Homo sapiens: one gene and its partners. The protein of the gene in region 2 interacts with the protein of the main gene of each other region in a biochemical or structural test. Each region holds a gene or a part of one and is shown on either strand. Other genes may lie near its edges.

Region 1 (3,654 bases), on a different chromosome or scaffold from region 2:
TTTGTTCGGAAAAAACAAACACACATATATCTCCTTGGAAAGAAAGGAAATATATCCCTAATTACAATGAGTAGTTTGAATCCACAAAAATCATAATCAAGATAATTTTATGGGAACTATTAGTTTTAAAAAACTATAAGGCCACTGACCACAAACTACTCAAATTCCATTAAGAAAAGAAGGAAAAAGTCACTGACTCATAGAAAATAAGCAAATAAAACTAAAATTACATTTGCCTTGCTATTGCAAAAGGTTAAATTAGCTAACGGAATTCTAGAAGAGAAAATGGCATATAATCATCTCTCTAGAAATACTCTTTGAAAACAAGATCTTTAGGCAATAAAAGACATTTCCCTGAAAGAAAGAAGAAATACCAAATCTAATGCTGCAAAGTGATACTGCAGAAATGTTTAAATTATAGAAACAAAATGTTACCAAGAGTATATGATGTTTAAAAATAAGAAAAACACAAGAGTGTTAACTAAGTCATCCTTGTTGCGTAGCTTACCTAGCTGTGACTATAAAAAATGTAAATTTTTTTAACAAATTAAAAACATTACACAAAATCTAAGATCCAACATATTACCTACATACAGCCAAATGTCATGACCATAAATTTAAAGGGCTAGATATACTAGAATTTTGTTGCAGTGAATATTTAAAATAAGTATAAACACCAAAAATTGCAAAATGAATATCCCATATTTCTCAATAACTAATTGTACCACTCAATGAACAGACTATTTCCTTACACGAATGGAGTTTAAGTGAGGCAGACAAGAGCAAAGTGCCTCTCACTGAAGCTCAGAATCCGCTGCTCAGGACATCTTTGCCTACCTTGGTCAAAACCATGTTCTTATACCTTTATGCTCTAAGCACATGATTATATTGTTTTTTTTTCTGCCTGGGATGCCTTCTACTAACTCTCACCAGTCTTGCTTTACATAAACTTCCCTAATAGAATTTTTCCTTAAAATTAAATATTAACATATAATTTTGGCTTACAGACATTGTACTAACCTATTACTAGGTATTTTAAATACTAGTTAAATGCTCAAGCTCTCAGGTATTCTATTCCTCTTCTGCCAGTTTCTAGGCCTTGGGGAAAGGGTATACTAGTGGAAGTTGAAGAAAGATATAATGAAAAACAGCAGAAAGATCTCCATGTTGAGGCAGCCCCTAAAGGTACAAAATTAGGATGTGGCACTACTAAGCCACAATGCTGCGAAAGGCAAGCAGTGATACTACTGGTTGGTTTATTTGGTATCACCTCATTTAAAATTACTGGAAGCTGGAACTGGTTAAAATGAGCAATGAAGTAGGATTAAACAGTTATACACACAGGTAGCTAGAATCCCTGGCTTCTCACTACCTATCTGATCCACTCATTCATAGTACTGAATGTCTACATGTGAAGCCTGGAGACATATAACTCTGAGACTTCCTAGGTAACAAGAAAACAGATGAGACAAGACTTAAGATCTATTAGATCAACCCACCACTTAAATATATTCGTTACTTTAGCTCAGGGATCATAATTTAGAAATAGTTTTAGTGGTTTAAGATGAAACAATCTTTATTGTAATAAGTATTATCCCAAATCTAATTTAAAATACATAGTCAACAAATCTTACTTACAAAAACTATAAAGATATAAATGACATACAAACAGCTAAATTTGAAGGAGGTTGACATTAAGACCTGTAGTACTATCTGTAAAATCACTAAAATTCAATTTGAGAGTACAAATCCCCTAGCTCACCTCCACCAACACTACTCCCAACCCATATACCTAGTGCCAACTACAACATAGCAAACACTAAAATATTCAACAAGGATGTATCAAATAATGAAACAGCTGTTTATGCGCTATTTTAGAAGATGTTTAGTCATTGAGATCAGAACTAACCATTTTCCAAAGTACAGTAGCAAGGAAAAATAAAACCATAGCTAAATTCTAAGTGAATAAAAAACTATCTTTCAATACTAAAAGTATAGATTGGCTGGACACGGTGGCACACACCCGTAATCCCAGCACTTTGGGAGGCTGAGGTGGATGGATTGCTTGAGCTCAGGAGTTCAAGACCAGCCTAGGTAACATGGCGAAACCCCATCTCTACAAAAAAATACAAAAAAGTTAGCTGGACATAGTGACACACACCTATGGTCCCGCTACTTGTGAGGTGGAGGTTGCAGTCAGCCAAGATTGCACTATTGCATTTCTGCATGGGTGACAGAGTAAAAACCCTGTCCCGGGGGAAGAAAAAAAAAGATCTAGATTGACTGCTTTCTAAATTCATACAATATAATCAGTAAAACTAGCTGATAGATTGTTTTCTCTAGAAAATTAATTGAAGAACCCCTGCCACGCACTAAAATTTGAGTAAAGCCAACTGTGGCTGTTCTTGTCTACAGTATCACTCTGCTTCACTCTGATGTCAAGTAAACGTTTATGATCGTTATAACCCAGATAAATGCTTTCCACAATGTATATATCATCGTGTCTAGTATAAAACTAAGATTAAAATAGCAGAGTAAAACATTACTGAACAATGTATTTTTGTTGATAAACCTCTGTCAAACAGAAGATGAGCAATCAGCCTCCTAAATTTATTACTGGCTTCCAATAGAAATCTGATTTATAGTCTGCTAAAACTGCTTGCAAGCTGGGGAAGCTTACTGCATGCCACCTTCCAATGTCAGCAGCGTAAGCTTCATGAGTGACTAGACCAAAGCTATGAGAGGCATGTTTTTTGGTCCTAGTTTATATATTCAAGAAATTGTTACCAATAGTTATTAAAGAAAAAAATCTCCACCACAAAAATGAATATGAAAACTACATTCTGGTACCATGGTGCCCCTTTCTGGTGAACTAGCAGTCTTGATTTACCTTTCCTTCCAAGTTTAGCTGCTGCATTTCTTGGTCACTATTTCCTATCCCAATAAATGCACACGGTTGAGACTCTTGTTCAGAACAACCATCGCGTTCCATTTGTTCTTTTTTTTTCTTCCATCCACTGCCCATAAGATATACACAAGGAGGTGGGCAAAAAAACCTGAAGAATAATAGGGGAAAAAAAAAAACAAGAAGCAAAAATCAATTAGATTCAATAAAGCATTTCCTTTCCTTGAACATTATGAATACAAAATCATATTGAAATGCACCTATTCCCCAATGAAAAATTTTGGTGAAGCCTTTTGTAATGCAAATAATCATGCCCACAGGACAGAAATCGGGACTTCCACAATGACTAAATCTGTTCAGGCAAAATATTGGAGTTATGCATACAGTTAGATTAAATACTTTTTAGAGTACAGAACTTCTCTTTGTATGGCTCAGAGTTCTAAATTACCAGAGTTCAGCAAATCCAGTGTACTCTAACATATTACAAAACACGATAAACCACCACAAAAATCTGTAATTACTAATTAAGGCCTATTCAAAATGACACAATCATTAATGAGTGACATTACTATTATGGATACTGCATTTAACTTAATGTGGTAATTAACCTGGAAAATTGTGTTAGAGCATTGTCCATAGTAGAAACATCCAAAATATTAATAAAACTAAGCAAAAGAGCCAAAAATACATGGATCTCCTGATTATGAGCAGTGCTGTGTTTTATATATCTTTGAATTTTATACACACTT
Region 2 (3,654 bases):
CACCTTTTCTAAAAAAAAAAAAAAAAAAAAAAAGGATGGGGAGTTGGAGAGGCCAGATAAGAAACAGGTGGTCTCCCCTCCCTCCCCCAACACCTCCCCACCTGAGGACTCACTGATAAAGACCAGCACCAAGAGGATGGCAAACAGGATCCCGAAGATGATGGGGATCACCACCAGGGCTCTCAGCCGATCCTGGGGACCTGGAGAAATCAGGACTTCAGCATGCACCCCTCACCTGCAGTTTCTCCCTACCCTCAACCTGCTGTGACTTGTCAGACTCCAGAATCTTCCAATGTCAGAGCTCATCTACATCAGAAGGTTCAAACCGCGGTCCTTGGGGAAATGTGGCTGGCAGATGTCTTTAAAGGAGCCAGAACATTTTCTTAACGTTTGGAAATATTTGCCGACATTTTTAAACTGGGAGATCACATATTCAAACCTAGACATCTGATTTCTCTTACAAACTGGGAAGACTGGGTTCCAGTTGGCAGCCTCCCCACCTGGGAACCATCTAGAAGCGAGTGGTGGCAGTGGCTGTCACCACCTGCTCACCATGCTCCCCGCCACTCCCTGCTCTCTGCCCAATGCCGAGGTCTAGCATGATTCATGTCTGCATGTTGCTTTTGGTATAGAAGAGTGGAGGGGAAAGGTAAAGTATTTCTCATGCCGAATTTTTTTTTCAAAGTGGGAAAATAAAAGAAAGACCAAAAGGCAGGGCGGAGACTAGCGTGAGGCAAGGGATGAAATTGTTTCAGGACAAAATTGAAAAGGATGTCCAAAACACTCAGTCATCAAGGTAAACATTCTTTTAATGCCATATTTTGAAAATCATCAGGCGGACACCAAGTCAGCAAACTACGGCCTGCAGGCTGGCTGCCTATTCCTTTTACTGGAACCAGGGCCAGGATTAGGGTGAGGTGAGTGAGGCAGGGTCATGCAAACACAGGGTCGGATCCTGTTCTTTATTTAAAATGTTGCTATCTTGCTCATCATGGATTTCTTTGCATTAATTTTTATTTTTAAAAATATTGCATCAAAATGAATTTACCTTGATTACTACACTTTTATGGCACCTTCTTAAATATTGCGCCCGAGGGCAAGTGCCTTGCTCACCTCATTCTAGTCCCAGCCCTACAAAGAGGAAAGTACATTTTGAGAAAAAGCAAAGAGAATGTATTTTTCGTTTTTTTAAATTTTATTATTATTATACTTTAAGCTTTAGGGTACATGTGCATAATGTGCAGGTTTGTTACATATGTATACATGTACCATGTTGGTGTGCTGCACCCATTAACTGGTCATTTAGCGTTAGGTAAAGAGAATGTAATTTTCTTACCCCTGACCTTTTTCACTGATTTACATTATCTGATCTTTACTGTAGGCCAACCTTCTCACTCTAAAATCAAAACCTACTAAGGAAGTGCTGTTATCATCCCATTTTACAGATGAAGAAACTGAGGCTAAGAGAGGGGAAGTGATTTGCCCAGACTCCCAAGATAAGTGGCAGAGCTGTGATACCACACCCCCAAACTGCCTCCCCTCCCCTTTTTCCCATCCAGTGTTCCTGTGTGCCTCATCTCCCCCTTCAGTTCCCACCTTCCTAGGCTTTCTCCAGGGCCCATTGTCCAGGACTCACCACAGACAACATCAGTCTTGTTTGTGCCTGCCTGTTGCACAACCAGGTCTTTGGTCTCACAGCTATGCACAGACACGTGCACAAATGCACACACACAGAGAAAGAAAGAGATATTAAGTTTCCCCAAGCATAAGATTTCCAACTCTAGAGTGAGTCAGTCAACAATCAACAAATCCAGGTTCACTGAGCACACAACACGTGCAACGTCCTATGCTGGTTATTATAGGAACGACACAGACTCTTCTTACAGAACTTAAAAGTGCAGAGAAAAGATTCTTGCACATCTTGAAGGAGTAATAAATAGGGGAGTCTATAATGAGTGCCAAGCTTTGTGATCTAGGTAGGCTAAAGTGAGATGGGAATGGTTCAGAGGAGACAGAATCCACCAAGGCTGGAATGGAGAGATGATGAGTTCAGCTTAAGATAGGGTTACTCAACGTCAGCACCAGTGACACTTGGGCTGGATCATTATTTACTGGGGGTGTGGGGGTGGGGGTGGGCTGTCCTATGCATTGCAGATGTTCAGCAGCATCCCTGGCCTCTATCCGCCAGATCCCTGTAGCATCCCCCTCTCCGTTTGTGACGAATGAAATGTGTCCAGACATTGGCAAACGTTCCACAGGGAGCAAAACTGCCCCCTGTTGAGAACCTCTGGTTTAAGGTTCTTCCAGAAAGACTTCCCTGAGGACATATGACCTGAGTGGGCCCTAAAGGATGTAAAATTTGGATCAGCAGTGCAGTCCCGCTAAGTGGGACGATGTGATGTGGGGAAATAAGGCAGGTGGCATGCAGGATGGTGTTAGGAAACTATGGAAAATTGTGTCTTTAGAACCAGATCACTGCCAAGTGTGAAGTTTTCAACTGGATTCAGCTGGTCAGTCTCATCAGCATCCAACCAGGCGACTTCACTAGTGAGAAGATTCAGCTGCCCAGAGAGCTCAGAGGAGGAGAAATTACAGAAGAGTGGCCAGCCAGGAGACACAGCAAACATATAGATATGAGATGATGAAGACCTGGTCCAGGTGGCCCCAGGAGGAGTGGGGCGGAATGGACACAGGACATTGCAAAGGAAAAATCATCTAAGGTGGGAGAAAGAGAGAGAAGCTTTGAAGAAACCATGTACTTTAGTCTTTTTTTTTTTTTTTTTTTTTTTTTGAGACAGAGTCTTGCTCTTTCGCCAGACTGGCTGGAATGCAGTGGCGCGATCTCAGCTCACTGCAACCTCCACCTCCCAGGTTCAAGCAATTCTCCTGCCTCCGCCTCCTGAGTAGCTGGGACTACAGATGTGCGCCACCACGCCCAGCTAATTTTTGTATTTTTAGTAGAGACAGGGTTTTACCATATTAGCCAGGATGGTCTCGATCTCTTGACCTCATGATCTGCCCTCCTCGGCCTCCCAAAGTGCTGCAATTACAGGTGTGAGCCACCACGCCCGGCCTACTTTAGTCTTACATGAGTAGAGCATTCAGGAATTTACAATACACTTTACATGTTTTTAGCTCAAGCCTTGTGAAATGAAGGTCATTCCCATTTTTCAGATGAGGAGACTGAGGCTCAGTGAGGGTCACACACTTACTGAGCTGTAATCAGATACGTAAGCCAATGCACTGATTCCATTAATACTATACCACTGGTGGCCGGGCACGGTGGCTCACGCCTGTAATCCCAGCACTTTGGGAGGCCAAGGCAGACGGATCACGAGGTCAGGAGATCAAGACCATCCTGGCTAACACGGTGAAACGCCGTCTCTACTAAAAATACAAAAAAATTAGCCGGGTGTGGTGGCGGGCGCCTATAGTCCCAGCTACTCAGGAGGCTGAGGCAGGAGAATGGCGTGAACCTGGGAGGCAGAGCTTGCAGTGAGCCGAGATTGCGCCACTGCACTCCAGCCTGGGCGACAGAGTGAGACTCTGTCTCAAAAAAAAAAAAAAAAAAAAAAAAAAAAAAAAACTATACCAGTGGTGCCTCCAGTTATCAGTCAACATTTATCAGTAAAAATTTAAGCACCTACCATGCGT
Region 3 (3,654 bases), on a different chromosome or scaffold from region 2:
CAAATATGCACCAACGCAGGGAAACAGGCTTTCATAAAGTTGCCTTTTTTCCCATAGTGATCTGCTTTTTAATTATTCTACAAGAAGTATATAGAATTTCGGAACAAAAATAGCAGTTGCTAAGGTAGAAGACTTTCTCAAATAAATAAATAAAGGTATTTTGATACTTTGGCAGATGGCCCAGAGCAACAGCACTTTGTTCATCTTGCTTCCATAAAACTTCCACAACTCATCAACTTAATTAATAGAGAAAACAAATGTTTTCTCTATTAATGGCATTTGTTGAAGTTCTTGTTGAGAAATTTGACTGACCATAGCCCATCTCCCACTAAGTAGCAATGACACTTTTAACTTGATGTTCCTCCTATCAATACTCTAATCATCTTAATTCTATTTCAATTCTCAAACTATCTACAGATAGTTGAGAGACAAGATAGATCTCAAAGACATGCCTTTAATTCAAAGAGGCACAAAGAGTCATGGATAAGAAGGACAATCTCAGTCTTCTGTTTGGATGGCAATCATCCCAACAATGAAGAAGGTGGTTCCCTATTTGATCATGGGAAGCACTGGGGTTAGGGTCGGAACAAAGATCTATTTGCAGGTGCTTTACATAAACTACCTCATTTTTAATCTTCCCTCTGCAGAAGCATATATTGTCTTCCCTTTACAGAGGAGGAAACTGAACTTCAAAACTGAGCTTCAAAAGGGTAAATAAGTTGCATAAGGCACAGAATTAGAAAATGGAAGAACCAGATAAACCTAGGTCTCTGTTGCTAAAGCACAATCTCTAGCTCTCTCCCCTCTAATTTTTTATTTTAATCAGAGCTATACGTACCTATATCTTAATGAGTTGTGTAGTTCTACAAAATAAGAAAAACAGTAGTCCTCTGCTTTCCCCTTCCTATTTCCTGCTTCACCTTCGCAACAAATTTTGACTAATTCTTTTTTGTATTTATCTCTGTATCCCTAAATAACATGTAATACTGCCACTACTGATTTTTCAGTTTTTGTCTCTTCATTATGGAAAATTAGGATTCAGCTCTCTTTAAATATCCCCTACCTCCTATTCTCCCCCATTTCCCCAATACAGTTATATCTAATTTTTCATTAGATTAGCATTCAGCTTTTACTTTCTTATTACTATGTAATGCTATTCACTGTTGAACAATACCATGGATACTTTTCCTTTTCTGAAAACTTTTTTCCCTGAAAATTCTTGTTTGCTTTGTTTCCTATTATCACTAATACAACTCCTCAATATATTCAGACACGTCAGGTATTCTATCTCTTTAGAAGAATCACTCTGTAAGCTTTCTGGCTTGCTCCAATCTAGACTAGTTGCTCTCTATGCCTGATGGAAAGCCTTCATCTTGGGACCTTCTTTACCTTGAATTTGGGGATACCCTTTGTCCATCTCTTTCTTTAATTGAATCCCTCATTTTCAGTCTCCTGAATCTTGTTTTATATCCCCACGTGGTGACGCAAATCTTGTAGCAGCTTCCTAAGAAAGTGTTTGGGAAGTAAATTTTTTGAGGCTTTGCATAACTAAAAATATCTTTACCCTCTGACTTAACGGATCCTTTGGCTAGATTAAGAGTTCTAGGTTGGAAGTAATTTTTCCTCAGAATTCTGAAAGCTTTGCTATGCTATCTTCTAGCTTCTGTTTATTTTTTTTGAGGATCAGATCCATTTTGATTCCTGATCTTGTACAATTCTCACTCTGTTGCTCGAGGCTGGAGTGCAATGGTGTGATCTCAGCTCATTGCAACCTCCACCTCCGGGATTCAAGCGATTCTTGTGCCTCAGCCTCCCCAGTAGCTGGGATTACAGGCGCACGCCACCACACCCAGCTAATTTTTGTATTTTTAGTAGAGACGGGGTTTCACCATGTTAGCCAGGATGGTCTTGAACTCCCAGCCTCAGGTGATCTGCCTGCCTCGGCCTCCCAAAGTGCTTGGATTATAGGCATAAGCCACTGTGCCTGGCCTTAAACCGATTTTTTTCTCTTTGAAAACAATTAGGATTTTTTTTCTTTTTGTCCCTAGGATTCTGAAATTTCAGGACCATACTTGGCCATGGACTATATCATAGCAATAGGTGTTTGGTGGGCCCTTTCAATCTGGAAATTCCTCCTTCAGTTCTTGGAAATTTTCTTGAAAATTTTTTGGGGCAATTTCTTTCCTTTTGTATTCCTTTCTGGGACTTCTACTATCTGGGTTTTGAATCTTCTGTACTGGTTCTCCAATTCTCCTTATTCTGCCACTCCTTTTAAAATGAACTTCCCTCCTTATTTCATAGTGAGAAATAAAAACTTTTAATGTGAGGAGTGCAAACCCATTTTAATTATCAGGCCCAGAGAGGCACTGAAATGTAAGTGTGTGACAGCAGTCACACCTCACTCTCCCGTGAACTAAATGACCCTCTTGAAGCTACCTACTATGTGATGCCAAGTAGCCATAAAATGCCATACGTTAGATACCAAAACTCATGCCCTATAGTTCAACAATGTATAATCACTAATCAATGTTATTTCTGTAAACCAGTGAGAATTCCTATCAAATAACTTAGTATCAGCCCATTCTTTGCTCTCTTTTGCCTTTAAAAACCTGGTTGCGGCCAGGCACGGTGGCTCACACTTGTAATCCCAGCACTCTGGGAGGCCGAGGCGAGCGTATCACAAGGTCAGGAGATCGAGACCATCCTGGCTAACACGGTGAAACCCTGTCTCTACTAAAAAATACAAAAAAATTAGCCGGTCGTGGTGGCGGGCATTTGTAGTCCCAGCTACTTGGGAGGCTGAGGCAGAAGAATGGAGTGAACCCAGGAAGCGGAGCTTGCAGTGAGACAAGATCGCGCCACTGCACTCCAGCCTGGGTGACAGAGAGAGACTCCATCTCAAAAAACAAAAACAAACAAACAAACAAACAAAAACCTGGTTGCAACAAAGGCCGAATGGAGCAACCCCCCAAGGCAACCTGGAAGTGTGTCCAAGGCAGCTGTCGTCAACCTTTACCCAAATAAATTCCCCATATTAATTTTGCCTCCATTTCTTTAGGTTGACAATAGATACAATATCTTAAGTCTGTTGTCTTTGGCAGCCATTATCCTGCCAAATGACAGCCAACCAATCCTGGATAAAGAAAGTAGTAATCAAGGGTAAGTAGTGGTGCCTCTGGAGCTGCACTGAGGCTGACAGTGTATGAGCCAAATCATGTTCCACCTCTAACTGCCTGTTCAACCAGAACATCTGAGCTTTGATCAGTTATGTATATATACATTGGAATTCCACGTTTGAAGAGAATCAAAGGCTTAAAGGTAGGATTTTCGCCATCTTGACCCCAGGATGATTAGTCATTCTTTAGTAAGGTCTACTTTTTTGTAGGTGGTTGAGACAAGTGTGAGTAATTTGGGAGGCAGGCAAGGCCCCTCTGCTGGGTTTCCCCAACTGCTGAGCCTATTCTGTTTCTGGGTAAATGTTCTGCCAGAGTTCACACTTGTGGTGAGAGACCAACTCAAATCTAAAGCAGTTTCAGGATGGGGAAAGGAAACCACCTTGAATAACTGCTACTCCTTCCACTTTGCCCTAGAAAAGAAAGCCACCAGCCTTTCCCAACCCCTTGGGCTATGAATAAGAGGAGTTCATATTCTATT

The links.
Region 1: the proteins of CD40 (region 2) and RBPJ form a complex in vitro, tested with the Homo sapiens proteins (one study listed by BioGRID).
Region 3: the proteins of CD40 (region 2) and TANK interact in a test that uses a peptide from one of them, tested with the Homo sapiens proteins (one study listed by BioGRID).

The regions. Positions count from the first base shown.
Region 1 is NC_000004.12:26,414,877-26,418,530, reverse strand, and holds part of RBPJ (recombining binding protein suppressor of hairless), read right to left. Parts: intron 3,057-3,654; coding exon 2,891-3,056; intron 1-2,890. UniProt on the Homo sapiens protein: Transcriptional regulator that plays a central role in Notch signaling, a signaling pathway involved in cell-cell communication that regulates a broad spectrum of cell-fate determinations.
Region 2 is NC_000020.11:46,124,684-46,128,337, reverse strand, and holds part of CD40 (tumor necrosis factor receptor superfamily member 5 isoform 1 precursor), read right to left. Parts: intron 1,699-3,654; coding exon 1,637-1,698; coding exon of another isoform or gene 1,597-1,636; exon of another isoform or gene 1,177-1,596; intron 360-1,176; exon of another isoform or gene 201-359; coding exon 114-200; coding exon of another isoform or gene 102-113; intron 9-101; coding exon 1-8.
Region 3 is NC_000002.12:161,166,887-161,170,540, reverse strand, and holds part of TANK (TRAF family member-associated NF-kappa-B activator), read right to left. Parts: intron 1-3,654.